Linked DNA regions of Homo sapiens. Each later gene encodes a partner of the first gene's protein in a complex. Each region holds a gene or a part of one and is shown in the gene's direction. Other genes may lie near its edges.

Region 1 (7,527 bases):
TTAAAACTGCACTTTTTTTTTTTTTTTTTTTTTGAGATGGAGTCTTGTTCTGTAGCCCAGGCTGGAGTGCAGTGGGGCGATCTCGGCTCACTGCAACCTCCGCCTCCCGGGTTCAAGCGATTCTCCTGCCTCAGCCTCCTGAGTAGCTGGGATTACAGGCGCTCACCACCACGCCTGGTGAATTTTTTTTTTTTTTTTTGTATTTTTAGTAGAGACGGGGTTTCACCTTATTGGTCAGGCTGGTCTCGAACTCCTGACCTCATGATCCGCCTGCCTTGGCCTCCTAAAGTGCTGGGATTACAGGCGTGAGCCACCGCACCTGGCCACATTTTTTTTTTCTTGAGATGGAGTCTCACCCTGTCGCTCAGGCTGGAGTGCAGTGGCACTATCTTGGCTCACTGCAACCTCCACCTCCTGGGCTCAGGCGATTCTCATGCCTGCAGCCTCCTGAGTAGCTGGGACCACAGGTGCGTGCCACCATGCCTGGCTAATTTTTGTATTTTCAGTAAAGACGGGGTTTCACCATGTTGGCCAGTCTGGTCTAGAACTCCTGGCCTGAGGTGATCCACCTGCCTCGGCCTCCCAGAGTGCTGGGATTACAGGCATGAGCCACTGCACCCAGCCCCAAATTGCACATTTTAATCATGTTCTTCTCTCCTTTATAGGAGCTCTTATTCAGGGTCTCCTGAATTAGGTTAGAACTTCTGAATGTTTGCTTCAAAGCTTTCCAACATTTTATTTACTTATCTATACTGCTTTTCTGTTCCCTCTTCCAACCCCAGCCTTTGTTTTTATCTGGAAAGGAAAAGTTTACCCAATGAAAATGTACCCTTCTCTCTACAACAGAAGATTCACATTCTCTGTGAAGTCTTCCTTGCTAATTCTCACTTGGCTTTGTGCTGGCCCCTATTGCCCTAGCAATGCCTCAGTATCCATGTTCACATACCTCTCCAACATTTGAAATTCATTCTCTGTGTTTTATAGATTTGTTAATGTGTAATTACGTTGCATATATTCATTATCCTATTTCTCCTCCTGACTTACGTCCTTAACTAACCACTCCCTCAAGGAAGGCATCCAGTGTCCTTAGAACATTCCATAGCTAAATACAATGACCCAATATGTAAAGAAGGTGGTACATATCATCAAGGTGGATGAAATAAGTCAATTAGAATGGTGAACTGGGAAAACACACCAAGAAAGTAGGTAAGGATGGAAGACCAAAATGCATTGCACATCATTGAGACCATCAAAAGACATGTCTATGAATTGGTGTGCAGTGAAATTTTCCCCTAAGAAGTGTTCTCAGCTCTTTCACATGCAAGACAATATACATATATTTTGGACTAGGATGCAATGACCAGCTCTGTAAAGGGAAGCAGGGGTGTTGAGTCCAATTTCTAACTCCTCCACTGGTTCACTGACTAGGAGATGGTGAACAACCATCTTCATTCTTCAGTGTTTAATTCTATTTGTAAAATAGGTATTTTCTTTTTTTGAGACGGAGTTTCGCTCTTGTTGCCCAGGCTGGAGTGGAGTGGCGCGATCTCAGCTCACTGCAACCTCTGCCTCCTAAGTAAAAGCAATTCTCCTGTCTCAGCCTCCCAAGTAGCTGCGATTACAGGCATGTGCCACCATACCTGGCTAATTGTTTTGTATTTAGCAGAGACGGGGTTTCAACACGTTAGTCAGGCTGGTCATGAACTCCTGACTTCAGGTGATCCACCTGCCTCGGCCTCCCAAAGTGCTGGGATTACAGGCATATGCCACTGCACCCGGCCAAGTATTTTCATTTTTAAACTCACTGTCTACCTAATCTTACCCAGTTTAATAGCTTGAAATATTTCTCTCTAAATTTGAGACTCATAGCACCATTCACCAACTCTACATCTTCACTTGTGTATGTCCCTTGGACATCTCATATTTAATATCTCAAAAACCAAACTCTTGTTTTTCACTCCCCAAGCTGGCTCCACCCTATTTCAGTAAATGGCAATTCCATCCTTCCAAAAACCTTGATTTTGATCTGTCCCTCATGTCTTACATCCAATCTATCAGCAACTGTTACCAGTTTTACCTTCGAAATATATCCAGAATACAACTGCTTCCCATCACCTCTGTAGACCCCACCTTGGCCAAAGCCAACATCATCTTTCACCAGGATTATCACAATAGTGTCTCAACTATTTCCCTGCTTCCACCCTCAGCGCCTACAGTCTACTAAGCTAGCCTTTTGAAAAGGAAAGGCAGATTGTGTTACGTCTCTGCTTAAACCCCTACACTGACTTCTCATCTCATTCTAAATAAAATCCAAAGCTCTTTGCATGGAATTCAAAGCTCAACACAGTTTTGTTCTAGATATCTTTGAATTTGTCTCATAACACACTCTCCTCTCTCATTTATTCAGCTCCAGCCACAGGGGTTCCCTAGAATATGCCAGGCACTTTATCTAATTAGCATTCCATCCCACCACACTCTCTAGTCACCTACTGTGCTTTATTTTTCGAAATAGCACCTATCATTACCTAACATACTTATTTTTTGTCTTATCCCACTAGAATATGTCAGGGGGACAAGAATATCTCATGCTGCCACCCATGAGAATAGGGATGTCATCTGTCTTCTTCACTGTTTTTCCCCAGCACCTAGCACAGAGCTCTTGTATGTAACAATAATTTCTAAGTAGGAAATTCAAAGGATTTTTTCCACTTCATTAAAAACAAACAAACAGATGCAGTGGCTCACACCTGTAATCCTAGCACTTTGGGAGGCCGAGGCGGGCAAATCACTTACTTGAGGTGAGAAGTTCAAGACCAGCCTGGCGAACATGACAAAACCCCATCTCTACCAAAAATACAAAAATTAGCTGGGTGTGGTGGTGTGTCCCTGTAGTCCCAGCTACTCAGGAGGCTGAGGCAGCAGAATCGCTTGAACCCAGGAGGCAGACTGCAGTAAGCCAAGATTGTGCCACTGAACTCCAGCCTGGGTGACAGAGAAAGACCCTGTCTCCAAAAAACAAAAACAAAAACAAAGAAACAAAAAAACCTATTCTAGTTACTCAGACACACAGTCTTAAAATAACAAAAATACTTATAGAATGAAGCTAGATTCCACAGCATCGATCAGGAATTTCCAGTGTAGGAAATGATGAACTACCACATTCAAACATACAGGCTTTACAGGTGCATCAGAATCACAAGCACGTGGCAGGGTTCATGTGCCCAATTAAGTGAATATTCCTGCTACATGTTCAGCAGCTTATAAACAGATGGTGACCCAGACCAGACTGCCTTGATGAGTCTGCTTGGAAAAAAGGCATTACATCACTGATTGGAGAACCTCAAAGCATATGTCCGGGCAGGTGACACACACACAGCTCAGGCTGTGATTGCTAAACCACTCCCACAGCCAAATAAGGAAACCCATCTCATGACCAGCTCTCAGGGGAATTCTCCGAGTCTGACAGTCACCTCTAACTCCTCTGCCAGTTAAAATTAAGGGGTCTGTGATCAGTGATGTTACACTCCTCAAATGTGCATTTTTTTTTGAGGCGGAGTCTTGCTCTGTTGCCCAGGCTGGAGTGCAGTGGTGTGATCTCGGCTCACTGCCACCTCCACCTCCCTGGTTCAAACGATTCTCCTGCCTCAGCCTCCCGAGGAGCTGGGACTACAGGCGCCCACTACCATGCCTGGCTAATTTTTGTATTTTTAGTAGAGACGGGGTTTCACCATGTTGGCCAGGCTGGTCTTCAACTCCTGACCTCAGGTGATCCACCCGCGTCGGCCTCCCAAAGTGTTGGGATTACAGGCGTGAGCCACCGTACCCCGCCTCAAATGTGCATTTGTGATACCTTTTCGTAAATGTTTATTCAAATATTTATTCACGAATAAAGGAAGAAAACGGGATTTGTTTAAATTCAATTTCTAGGTCCAAGACAACCTACTACGGCTGTCCCTAATACGGACCTCCGGGTTGTCCTCAGTGCCGCTTCCAACAGTGTCCTCAAACACCCTCCCCTCCCATAATGAGCCCCCAACCTGTCACCACTCCGAGCAATACTCCCCAAACTGTCAACGCCCTAAACAGCTCCCTTGTTATCGCCAAGCTCTAGAAAGCCCTCCTTATGTCATTCTTACCCCTAAAGACCGTTCTTGTCACCAATTCCCCAGACTTCCCCTATGAACCGCTCTAAGAGCCCTCAGCTATCAGCCACACCCCCAAACAGCCCTCAGTAAGAGCCCTACACTATCAGCCAGACGTTTTCCGCCACCAACGCTCCCGAGACCCCACTCCTGTCACCAGTTCCCCGAACATTCCTGCGAGCAATGTCGCAGATACTGCTCACAGACGTCCCCATAACCAACTTCTTCGCCACCGCAGCCCAGGAGCCCCCAAAGGGGTCCTCCGCGGCCCCGCCCCTTTACGTGCGGCCCCGCCCCTTGGCGTGGCGCCCTGACAAATGGCGCCGGAAGCCCCGCCCCCGGCCGGTTGCTAGGCTCCGACAGCCGGAAGTCCCGCCTGCCGTGTAGTCGCCGCCGTCGCTGCCGCTGCCGCTGCCGCCGTCGTTGTTGTTGTGCTCGGTGCGCTGAGCTCCGCGGCTCCGCGAGCCGGTTCCGTCCCCTTCCCGCCGCCGCCATGAAGTGGATGTTCAAGGAGGACCACTCGCTGGGTAAGCACTTGGTCGTCGGCCCGGCTGCTGGGGGCTGGGGCGGCGGGTGGGCCCCCTCCCCCACTCGGGCGGCCCTGGGCCGAGTGGAGCGGGGCGGATGCCCTGCTGCGGGCTGGAGTCGCCCATGCCCTGGTGCCTCGGGCAGCGGCCCCCTGACCCCATGTCACCCTCCGCGGGCCTTGCTGGGAGCTAGTAGGGGACAGGACCGCGGCCCCGGGGACGCCGGAACCAGGGCCTGGGTTGTACGCAGGGCGCAGGAGGAGGAGGGCCGGGGGCCGGGAACCGACCGGTGGGCAGGCGCGGCCGTCAGCCCCGTTTGTTTCTCCCACAGAACACAGATGCGTGGAGTCCGCGAAGATTCGAGCGAAATATCCCGACAGGGTTCCGGTGAGTGGACTCTCCGCCCCCTCACCTCGCTGTCACCTCTGTCGTCTGGGACCCGTGATAGGCCCCAGGCCATTCAACAGTTGACAAGTTGAGGTTCCAGTCCCAGTTACAGTAGCTGACGGGCCAGACCGGGATGAGGCCGCCCAGGGCCGGGGCGTGAGGGGCTCGGGCTGGTGCTGTTCAGGGTGCCTCAGTGCTGAATCTCCCGATCTAGGCCAGCGAGCCGTCTGCAGCCTCGGGGCTCCCTGGCCAATTATGTAAGGAACGATGTTCTAGGACAGGGCAACAGGTCACTGCCACTTTTGGGAATGGTGGTGGAGGGAGACTGTCATTTTGGTCTTGGAAGTGGTACTTGAGTCTCAGGACGTTCATCTTTTACTTTGTCTCCATCTTTACCTAACTTCTAGCTCCGTTATCTCACCTTGACCCTGTCATCCTTGCCTGACCAAAATAATGTGAAAAGCCGCTGAAAACCCCTTCTGCCATATTTTCTTCTTAGTCAATAATAAATATAATGTTATATTTCTTCCATGGTTGGGGAGATAGTTTTGTAATCGTTATTAATTTTTAATGGACATTAAGGCCTGTTATTGTAGCTCTTTGCTTGTGAATAATTTGTCTGGGGAAAGGAGTAGGAGGGACGGATTTGAAACTTGTTCAGAGAGGAGCAACAGGCCAAATGAAGAACTTGGTTCTTGGCTGGCTAAAATTCCAGGCATTCCAATTAGTCCATCCATTCTTGTCTCCTGTGTTCCTTGGGAACACAGTAGTGTTTCCTGTAGTGTGAAGGTGGATCCATTCTGGGGTCCTGGAGTAACGGGCCATGGATGAAACCCTCCCCAGATATTCTTAGGTCTGCCCAGATAAAATGTGGAAAAGCTTAGTGGTAAGGGCTGCATTTCTCTTACATAATTGACCACAGAAAAGCACTTACTGTTTCCCTGTAACACATTTATATCAATTCTTAACCTCCAGAGCGTGTGGTTTATTAAGCCAAAGACATATTTTCTCCTGCTATGCAGTTCCCCACCCACCTCCTTGCCCACACTCTGTTCATCAGCTCCTCAGCCATGTGAGGCCAGAGCCTCGCTTTAGGAAACACAGTCCTGACCTCTCTTTACTTTCCCAGGTGATTGTGGAAAAGGTCTCAGGCTCTCAGATTGTTGACATTGACAAACGGAAGTACTTGGTTCCATCTGATATCACTGTGGCTCAGTTCATGTGGATCATCAGGAAAAGGATCCAGCTTCCTTCTGAAAAGGCGATCTTCCTGTTTGTGGATAAGACAGTCCCACAGTCCAGGTGAGAGGTGTTTACTAGATGGGCCCTCTGGTATTAGACATCTGGTTGGCTGCTTACGGAACTCCAAAACTTTGGAAGTCTGAAAACTCTTAGGGGTCCTGACTAGAAATCTGGATTTTATGCTCCCTGACATCAGGGGCTCCAGGAAAATAATGGCTGCAATACATAAGAGTGCATTTTGGATTCAGAAAATAGAACAAGGCCTGGACTTTTAAAAAAATGATGAAACTCAGCCTAAGATCTCCAAGAATCTTTTAAAACGGTTGAGAACTTATTTAGTCTTAAGCTATAGGTAGAACTGAGGCCTGAAATGAGGTTTTCTTCCCTGAAGGCAGTCCTGGCATGCTCCTCCACTGGGAGCCTGTGGGCCCTGCTGAGGCTCACTCAGTTAATCATCCAGTTTGCTTGCTCCCAAACTTGGTCAACTCTTTGACATTGTAAGAGTCTATAGCTGCCTGATCCTCAAGTCTGACAAAATGACTGCGGCACAGTAAAGGGCTCTGAAGTCTCTTTACAGACTTATACCTCCCTTGGTAGCACTTGCTTTGACTGTCAGACTATTGTGCTGCCTGGAAGCAATCTTTGGGACTGTAACTTGTGGCCTGAATGTAGGCAGAGGCATTAGAATTCCCGTTTTCTGTGTGTTTGACAGCCCAGCTTTAGTCCCCTGTGGAAAAAGGAAAGTGGATGGGCTCCGTCTAACCTCCTGGTCAGTCCTTTCCCGTTACTGAGTGGGTAGTTGTAGGCCCTGATCCAGATTCCAGCCCCCACCTCTCCCCTGAGTGTGAGTTTCTGGCCACATCTTATCTTTGTGACCCAATCTAGGTTTCATTTACCACTCCCAGAAGTAATACTTCTAAAAGTGAAGGCTCTCAGAAGCCCTGGGAACTAGCCCAATGTTGTCCAAATAGGTTCCTGTTGAAAATCCTTGAAGACTCCAGAAGAGGCCTGTGCCAAATTCCAGACCTTATTTCTGTTAAAGGTGGAAAGCTCTGGCCATTTTTTGGTCTGATTTCCTCTTTCCCAGTGTCCTCCACCTCTACTTCCTGGTGTCTGATAGAAAGGCAGGGGAGAAATGGAAGCTCCTTCCCTAAGGCCAGTATTCAACCTGAGGAGACACCCCAGGGCCTGCCCACTGGACGCCATTGGTCTGCCACAGCTGTAGCTCT
Region 2 (7,814 bases), on another chromosome or scaffold:
TGCCTCAGCCTCCCAAGTAGCTGGGATTACAGGCATATGCCACCACACCCGGCTAATTTTTGTATTTTTGGTAGAGACAGGGTTTCACCATGTTGGCCAGGCTGGTCTCAAACTCCTGACCTCAGGTGATCCACCGGCCTCAGCCTCACAAAGTGCTGGGATTACAGGCGTGAGCCACTGTGCCCAGCCGTCCCTTTCTTAAGCTTGACTGTTCTACCCAGGAATTTAGCCAGAAATCAGTCACAAGGCCACATCTAGCTGCAAAGGAATCTGGGAAATGCAGTCTTTTCAGCTACTGTGTGCCTAGCTAAAAACAGAGACAGTGATCAGTCTACCACATCCACCTCACCTGTGGGCTTTAAAAACATCCCTCAACATAAACAGAGTCTATAAGTATTATATGCAAGGCATCGACCATTGTCTGCAGGTGCAGGGCAGGTAACTAAGGGGGTAAAACTGGCCTGGTGGGACTCATCTCCAGTTGAGGGTGACACCCACTGCTCCCTCCAGCCTGTTGTAACTTCTGTCCTGCCCCTGCTGACAATGTCAGCCTAGGTTGGGCCTTTCAAGAGAGCTGAAAATAGGATCTTAATGGGAAATCTCCCAGTGTTGGCCAAATAAAACCCGAAACAGAAGGTATCTCTGTTTGATTCCAAACCAGTTTCCCCACAAAGCGAGGCCAACTCTGGCCTGAGTTCCCCCACCTGCCCACACCCTTATGTTCTCTGGAAATTCCCACTCAAAAGCCAGAGCTCCCTGTTTAGACATTTTAATATGGATGTTTTCTGTTTTTAGATACTATTCCTGTTAGCTTATTCATACCATTTCACCTACACATATGAAAAAAATATTTCAGGACTAGAATGATATACAAAATTATTTCAACGAGACATAAATTATCGGGGGACTAGTGCCATCTAGTGCCATGGCCCCTCTAAGTGAGGATGGCAGGGGGTGGAAAAGAGACACAAGGACTCCAATTGCTACCCCCACTCAATTGGGGTCCAGCTCCCAACTTTGCTGCCCCATCCCCAAAAGCCCAAGTTGCTCCACATCTGGAACTCACCTGGTGGCATTACAGGCCAGCAACACCTCACCTTTCCTGCCCCCATTCAGGCAAAGGTCCAGGGCAATTTGCTCCCATAGCCCATGGCATCCATCTGGGAAGAATGAAGGGTGATGGCACAATCTGCAGCTAGGTATTTAACTGGGAATAAGGGAGACACAAACCATTTCTCTCCCGCACTCCCTTCCCATTTTTTTTTTTTAACAAAAGATCTCATTATTATCTGATTTCACTGTCTCACGAAGGCCCTGTGTGCTCCAAAGACTGAAGCTCTAAATAAGAATCTTCTGGGTCCTCTTTATTAAGAGCCCTCTGCCTTCCCAGGGGAGGGAAGCAAATCCTTCAGGGCCCCCAGAGTTCCTGCACCCCATATCATGGGTGAGTCCTACCAGCCACAGAGCCACCCGTCACCGTGGAGAGGCTTAAGCTGCACTCAGAGCTCCCCCCGGGCATGCCGAATGTAGTGTTGATGCAGCCCTGCTTCCTGAGCAAAGTCCTGACCGCACTCTGTGCAGGCGAAGGTGCCAGGAGGGGCACGGACCTCATGCATCTGGCGGTGCCGCCTCAGAGAAACAGCCTGCCCAAAGGTCTTGCCACAGTCAGGACAAGGGAAGGTGGGCTGGGCAGTAGTGGTTGCAACCGGCAGGGTGGGCTTGGCGGCTGGACCGTGGCTGCGCTGGTGGGTGATTAGGGCTTTGGAGGAGGGGAAGGAGCGGGCGCAGGTGAAGCAGATGAAGAGGACCCCCTGCAGCTTCTGGGCCACGAAGTCCGCTGGGTGCTCCCGCTTCATGTGACGCTCCTGGAACTTGGAATCTGCGAAGGTGATGAGGCAGCGGGTGCACTTCGGGGCCCCCAGGTGGCCTGAGGAATGTGGGGGAGAGGTCAGGGGAGGCCAGCAGGAGTCTCCAAGACCTCTTCCTGAACCCCAGAATCACACCAACAATTAACATTGAATGTGTTATGTGCTAGGTTCTATGCTAATGCTGGACAACCAAACAGGAGAACTGTTCTTGCACCTATTTTATGGATGAGCAAACTGAGATTCAAAGAGGTTAGGCAAGTTGCCCATAGTCATGAGGCTAGGAAAGGAAATGGTGGAGCCAGGGTTGGAACCCAGAGAGTCAGCCTGCCCAACAGAGGGGTATGGTGATTACAGCACAGCCTTTGGAGCCAGACTGCTTGGGATTGAATCTCACCTCCACCACTTCCTAGGCAATTACACCAGTTTCCTTATCTGGAAAATGGGCTAATAACAGTATCTACTCCATAGGACCGTTGGAAGGAATAAATGAATTGCTGTACAGTCATTTGCAATTATGACTAATGATACAGAGAAATCCAGCCCGACATCCAGGATCTGGCCTGGTACTCACAGCTAGACCTTGGTGTTCTGTTGAACATAAATTTTCACAGAATATCAAGGACAGACAAGGCCACGCTGTGACTAAAATGAATCAAGACAAGACTACATCATCATAATGTCTGAGCACAGACAAAATATGAATACTGTCCAAGCAGAAAAATGACCAAACATCCTCCTATCCTGGCTAATGTGAATGTCTGCTGCTGCTTTATCAGTCAGAGCTTGAGCCTCGCCTCCTTCCTTCCTCCTTCTGGGTAAGATTTATTACGATAGCCAATCATAGAATTGCCCCTGCTTCCTGGTAGCATCCAATCCAGAGCAAAACAATTTTGCTTGAACCTTCCCCAAAATCACCACCCACAAGCCCAAATCCTGTGTCGTTTTTACCATTCTTAGTGAGACACCCCACAGTCCCCCCATGGTCTGTGTTCATTGCAGTGAGAAACCCAACGTGTTCAACTGCAGGTGTGTTCCTGGTAGTCTCTGGCTCAAGGGCATTGAGACTACAGCTCTTGTTACAAATACCTCTCTCTGCCTCAGTTCCCAGTTTAAAGGGCCTATTATTAGAAGGACTCAATGAGATAATGAATGTTAAAATGGTTCATAATATGAGAATAAATACACCTAGCTCATAATAAAACACTGAGCAGGAGGTGTTGCTATTACATGTCAAACTGGCTACCATCATTAACCCCTAGCTTTCCCCTTTGCTGCAGTTAATCCCATACCCACCCTGTGAGGTGGGAAGTACCACCCTCTTTTGACAGTCAAGGAAACCAAGGCCCAAGTTACACTGAAAGTCTAGGGCAGAGTTGGGACCAGAATCTTGGGGTTTCTCTCCCAATAGAACCATTCCCAGCCACATCTCCAACCCAAGCCTCTCCTGGAAGCCACCCTATCCCTCTGAATGCATAAGCATTGCAATCCTGCTTATGTGGCCAGAGGAGGGTGAGTACTCTGGCCACATAAGCTGGTGTGAGGAGATGCACTTCCTGCTAGAGCAGCTCAGGGACCATTACAGCCCCTTCTCAACAGGCAAAACTCTGTGGCGCCTTGGACACCGAAGTGCCACAGAGATCTTAGCATCAGCTCCTGCACCCCACCCTCCTCTAGCCCGCCAGCCATGTGTACTCACAGATGTTGCCTCCTGGGCTCTGGGGACTTCTCTCCTTGGGTGAATCCTGCTGCTTCATGTTCTCTTCAGGGTTCGGGTCCTCCATGGTGCTGGGACCCTTCTAGTCAGGAGAGGAGCGTGCATAAGTGAAGCTGTTCATCTGTTACCAGTCTTAGAGGGCACCCTAAGTCTATGACCTTTGACATCGCCAGAGGCTCTCCTTGCCTGCCTTTGACCCCTACGACATACTATCTCCTTGAACTCTAATTGATGGAGTTCTTGCTAAAAGAAGCTTCAAACCTCCCAAAGGACTGGATTTCCTGGGTTTGGGACTCCCCTAGAGTCTTCTCACTGGTGTGACCTATGACCTGCTGCATCAAACTAACTCCCTGAACTCAGCGTGGAAGCCTTGATCTTTGACACCAGCGTCATCCCAATCTCAAGTGTCTTGGGGCAGGTAGTGATACCCACCCTTTATCCCAGTTCTTCCCGGGAAACATCCTCTGACATCCTGTGATTTTTGTTCCGCCCAGAGCCCCCGCCTCCCACGCGCGCTTGCAGCTGCTATCCCGCTACCCTCAAGCGCTGCCTACAGGTTCCTGCTCCCAGGCCTCAGTTTTCCTCCTTACAGCAGAGGGCTGCCTTTCGCTGCGCCTGTCAGCCGCTGGCTACAGCGCCGCCCCAGAGAGAAGTGGGATAGGGACCACTCAGTCTCAGGGCCCCCGTGGTTTCCGCGCCCTTTTGCCAGATGAGCCTCTCGGAGCCGAGATCCCGGATTTGCCATCCGGCAGTAGTATAGTCGCACCAGCCCGGTCCTCAAAATAACGGGAGGGGTCCTTCTCTGCCCTATGGCGCGTTTGATGACGTTCAGCCTCCCGCGGCTTAGCTAGCTAAGCCTTTTGCGCATGCGTGGGTAGGCTCTCGTGGCGCGCAGGCGCGTTGACTCATTCATTGTTCTAGGCCCTGAGGCCGCCAAAGAGGGGCGTGCACACTTCGGCCGTTCTGCGCAGGCGCGGCGAAGGGCTGGGTCTCTGCTGTCGGCCTTCCAAGACACACCCCCTTGGGAGAGGGAGTGACGTCAGGTTAAAGCTACCGGGACGGGTCCCGGCATCTCTAAATCACCGCTCCCTGGCCTCTTCGGCCTCCGTCCGCCGCGGCCCAGGGGCCGGGCTTCTCAGCTGCTGACCTACTGCCACCGACTGCGCTCTCTCCCGTGGGTCGGCTTTTTGCTCGGTTGGTGATTTGGAAGGGGGAAGGGGAAAGATGAAAATAACAATGTGTCCGAGGGAGGAGGGACTGGAAGCCAGATTTCTGAGGTTTTATTTTTATTTATTTTTCAGAGAGGGTCTTGCTCTGTCGCCTGGGCTGGAGTGCGGTGGTGTGATCACGGCCCACTGCAGCCTCCAAGTCCTGGGCTCAAGCGATCCTCCCGCCGCAGCCTTCCGAGTAGCTGGGGCTACAGGCGCACACCACCATGCCCGGCTAAATTTTATTTTTTATCGAGACGGAGACTCTACCAGAGAGTCCCCCCACATGTTGGCCAGGCTGGTCTCGAATTCCTGGCCTCAAGCGATCCTCCGGCCTCGGCCTCCCAAAGCACTGGGATTACAGGCATGAGCCACCGCGCCTGATTTCAGAGTTTTTGAAGCAGAAAGGGAAACGTTTCCATCTAGAGGGAGGGCGGACAGACAGGACGCCTGGGATTCTGGGGGAATAGGGTCTGGGCTCTGGATTTTTTAGGTCCTGGAGAGTGACACTCAAGAACCGAAGGGGACAGGGTGAAGGACTGAGGCCTGGGTTCCGAGTGGGGCGGCTAGGAAAGGAAAAGGCTAGGTGCTCCCTGACCCAGGTCTTCTCTACCCGTTGCTTTCCAGCCATGCCTCCGCCGCAGGGTGACGTGACCGCCTTGTTCCTGGGGCCTCCGGGCTTGGGGAAGTCCGCGCTGATCGCAGCGCTGTGCGACAAGGATGTGGAGACGCTCGAGGCCCCCGAGGGACGGCCGGACTCCGGGGTTCCCAGCCTAAGAGCTGCGGGCCCAGGCCTTTTTCTGGGCGAGCTGAGCTGCCCACCCGCAGCGCCGGGGCCCTGGGCGGCGGAAGCCAACGTGCTGGTACTGGTGCTGCCCGGACCCGAGGGGAACGGGGAACCGTTGGCTCCAGCCCTGGGAGAGGCAGCGCTGGCCGCCCTGGCCCGAGGGACCCCGCTACTGGCTGTGCGGAACCTCCGTCCTGGGGATTCACAGACTGCCGCCCAGGCCCGTGATCAGACAGCAGCTCTGCTGAACAGCGCGGGGTTAGGAGCTGCGGATCTGTTTGTGCTACCGGCGAACTGCGGCAGCAGCGACGGCTGCGAGGAGCTAGAGCGCCTCCGGGCGGCGCTGCAGAGCCAGGCAGAAGCGCTGCGGAGGTGAGTGCCGGCTTTCTGGCTGGGTCCGTTAGTCGAGACCCTAGGCACCTAGGTGCGACCATGGAGGTCCATGAGATCCCTCCCCCAGTGAGTTTGGGGCAAGGCTTAGCTCTATTATTATTATTTTTTTTTTTTTCCTGAGAGACAGGGTCTCGCTATGTTGGCTAGGTTGAATTTGAACTCCTGGCCTTAAGCAATACTCCCGCCTCAGCCTCCCAAAGTGCTAGGATTACAGGCGTGAACCACCACACCCGGCCTTTTTTTTTGAGACAGGTTCTCACTCTGTCGCCCAGGCTGGAGTGCAGTGCCGCGATCCTAGCTCACTGACGGCCTCCACCTCCTGGGCTCAAATGATCCTCCTGCCTCAGCCTCCAGAGTAGCTAATACTACAGGCTGCAAAACAGCATCTCACTGTTTCCCCAGGCTGGTCTTGAACTCTTGGCCTCAAGCCATGCCCCCACCCAGGCTTCCCAAAGCCCTAGAATTAAAAGGGAAAGGCTTAACACTTTATCTGCTGGGGCCCTGAGGCTCCTTTTTCCAGGCCCTGCCCCCACCAAGGTGATCCACCCTCCTTGGCCTCCCAAAGTGCTGGGATTACAGTCGTGAGACTCTCTGCCCAGCCCCCTGGAAGATTTTACCTGAAAACTCTAATCTTTGAGCCCTCCCCACCATCAGTTTTGTTTTCAAGCACCTAAAGCCACACCCGCAATGAGCTTTATTATTTTGGGGCATCCTCATCTACCTCCTTTCTCCAGCTCCCTCTTGTTTCTGTGCCCACTTGCTGGCTACCTCCTGGATTTGCTCTACCACCTGCCAGCCTCCTCATTTTAAAGACTTTAAAACGAGGCTCAGAGAGGGACAGTCCCTTGTCCCAGTACACTGTCATCTTTTTTCCTTAGCCTCACCTGCCCGGGAGTCACCTTAGCCACTCCCCCTTGGTAAGAACTGGTAGATGAGATTTCTCCCCTCACTGACCCTCCTTAGGCCCAGCCCCTGAAAAGAGTGCCCTTGGGGACCTTGTCTCAAATAGTGCTGGACTTGTGTTTAGGCCACAATACAGTTGCGATTCTTTGTTCTAGGCCCCACCCTCTGTGAGCTTTGTCCCACCCAGCACAGCCGACCCTTGGAAAAACCCCGCCCCCAAATACTGTATTCCATGGAAGTTTTAGCCCAATCCCCATTTTAGGCTGGGGTGGGAAACCTGACCTTATGTCCACCCGTCCAATAATCAAGACTCCATTATTGCTTGAAGCCCCACCCATATCATCACTGCCTCTCCCTATCTGGTTTCTATTTGCTGTGCCATCAGTCTGGCCCTTCCCTTTCCTACCCCTGCCCCATTCTGGGATCATTAGGAAAGCTCTGCCCTTGTCATCATAGCCCAGTCCATGTCACCCAGCCCCTCTTCTACCTTTGACCCTGTCCCTTCTTGTCCCCACAGGCTCCTGCCACCGGCGCAGGATGGCTTCGAGGTGTTGGGTGCAGCAGAGCTAGAGGCTGTGCGTGAGGCCTTTGAGACCGGCGGCCTTGAGGCTGCGCTGTCGTGGGTGCGCTCAGGCCTGGAGCGCCTGGGCAGCGCACGGCTAGACCTGGCCGTGGCTGGCAAGGCTGACGTGGGCCTTGTGGTGGACATGCTGCTTGGATTGGATCCTGGCGACCCAGGCGCTGCGCCTGCTTCGGTCCCCACAGCACCCACTCCCTTCCCAGCCCCAGAGCGCCCGAATGTGGTGCTCTGGACCGTGCCTCTGGGCCACACGGGCACTGCCACCACCGCGGCCGCCGCCTCTCACCCAACGCACTACGACGCCCTCATCCTCGTCACCCCTGGGGCCCCCACTGAGAAGGACTGGGCCCAGGTCCAGGCC

The links.
Region 2: the proteins of GABARAPL2 (region 1) and IRGQ are in contact, whole or in part, in a crystal structure (PDB 8Q6Q), measured with the Homo sapiens proteins. Residues at the interface, in NP_009216.1 of Homo sapiens: Ser10 (codon at 4,663), Glu12 (codon at 4,669), His13 (codon at 5,003), Cys15 (codon at 5,009), Val16 (codon at 5,012), Glu17 (codon at 5,015), Ala19 (codon at 5,021), Lys20 (codon at 5,024), Ile21 (codon at 5,027), Ala23 (codon at 5,033), Lys24 (codon at 5,036), Tyr25 (codon at 5,039), Arg28 (codon at 5,048), Pro30 (codon at 5,054), Lys46 (codon at 6,231), Lys48 (codon at 6,237), Tyr49 (codon at 6,240), Leu50 (codon at 6,243), Val51 (codon at 6,246), Pro52 (codon at 6,249), Phe60 (codon at 6,273), Ile63 (codon at 6,282), Arg67 (codon at 6,294), Phe104; in NP_001007562.1 of Homo sapiens: Asp7 (codon at 5,438), Thr9 (codon at 5,444), Leu11 (codon at 5,450), Pro47 (codon at 5,558), Leu49 (codon at 5,564), Phe57 (codon at 5,588), Pro70 (codon at 5,627), Trp71 (codon at 5,630), Glu74 (codon at 5,639), Pro181 (codon at 7,401), Ala182 (codon at 7,404), Gln183 (codon at 7,407), Asp184 (codon at 7,410), Gly185 (codon at 7,413), Phe186 (codon at 7,416), Glu187 (codon at 7,419), Val188 (codon at 7,422), Leu189 (codon at 7,425).

Annotation. Positions count from the first base shown.
Region 1 is NC_000016.10:75,561,852-75,569,378, forward strand, and holds the start of GABARAPL2 (gamma-aminobutyric acid receptor-associated protein-like 2), read left to right. Parts: upstream 1-4,527; 5' UTR 4,528-4,635; coding exon 4,636-4,669; intron 4,670-5,000; coding exon 5,001-5,056; intron 5,057-6,185; coding exon 6,186-6,358; intron 6,359-7,527. UniProt on the Homo sapiens protein: Ubiquitin-like modifier involved in intra-Golgi traffic. Modulates intra-Golgi transport through coupling between NSF activity and SNAREs activation. It first stimulates the ATPase activity of NSF which in turn stimulates the association with GOSR1.
Region 2 is NC_000019.10:43,592,944-43,600,757, reverse strand, and holds the start of IRGQ (immunity-related GTPase family Q protein), read left to right. Parts: upstream 1-4,623; 5' UTR 4,624-4,776; intron 4,777-5,417; 5' UTR 5,418-5,419; coding exon 5,420-5,949; intron 5,950-7,390; coding exon 7,391-7,814. Other genes in the region: ZNF576 (zinc finger protein 576), read right to left, coding at 1,500-1,927, 3,565-3,649. UniProt on the Homo sapiens protein: Autophagy receptor that specifically promotes clearance of misfolded MHC class I molecules by targeting them to the lysosome for degradation.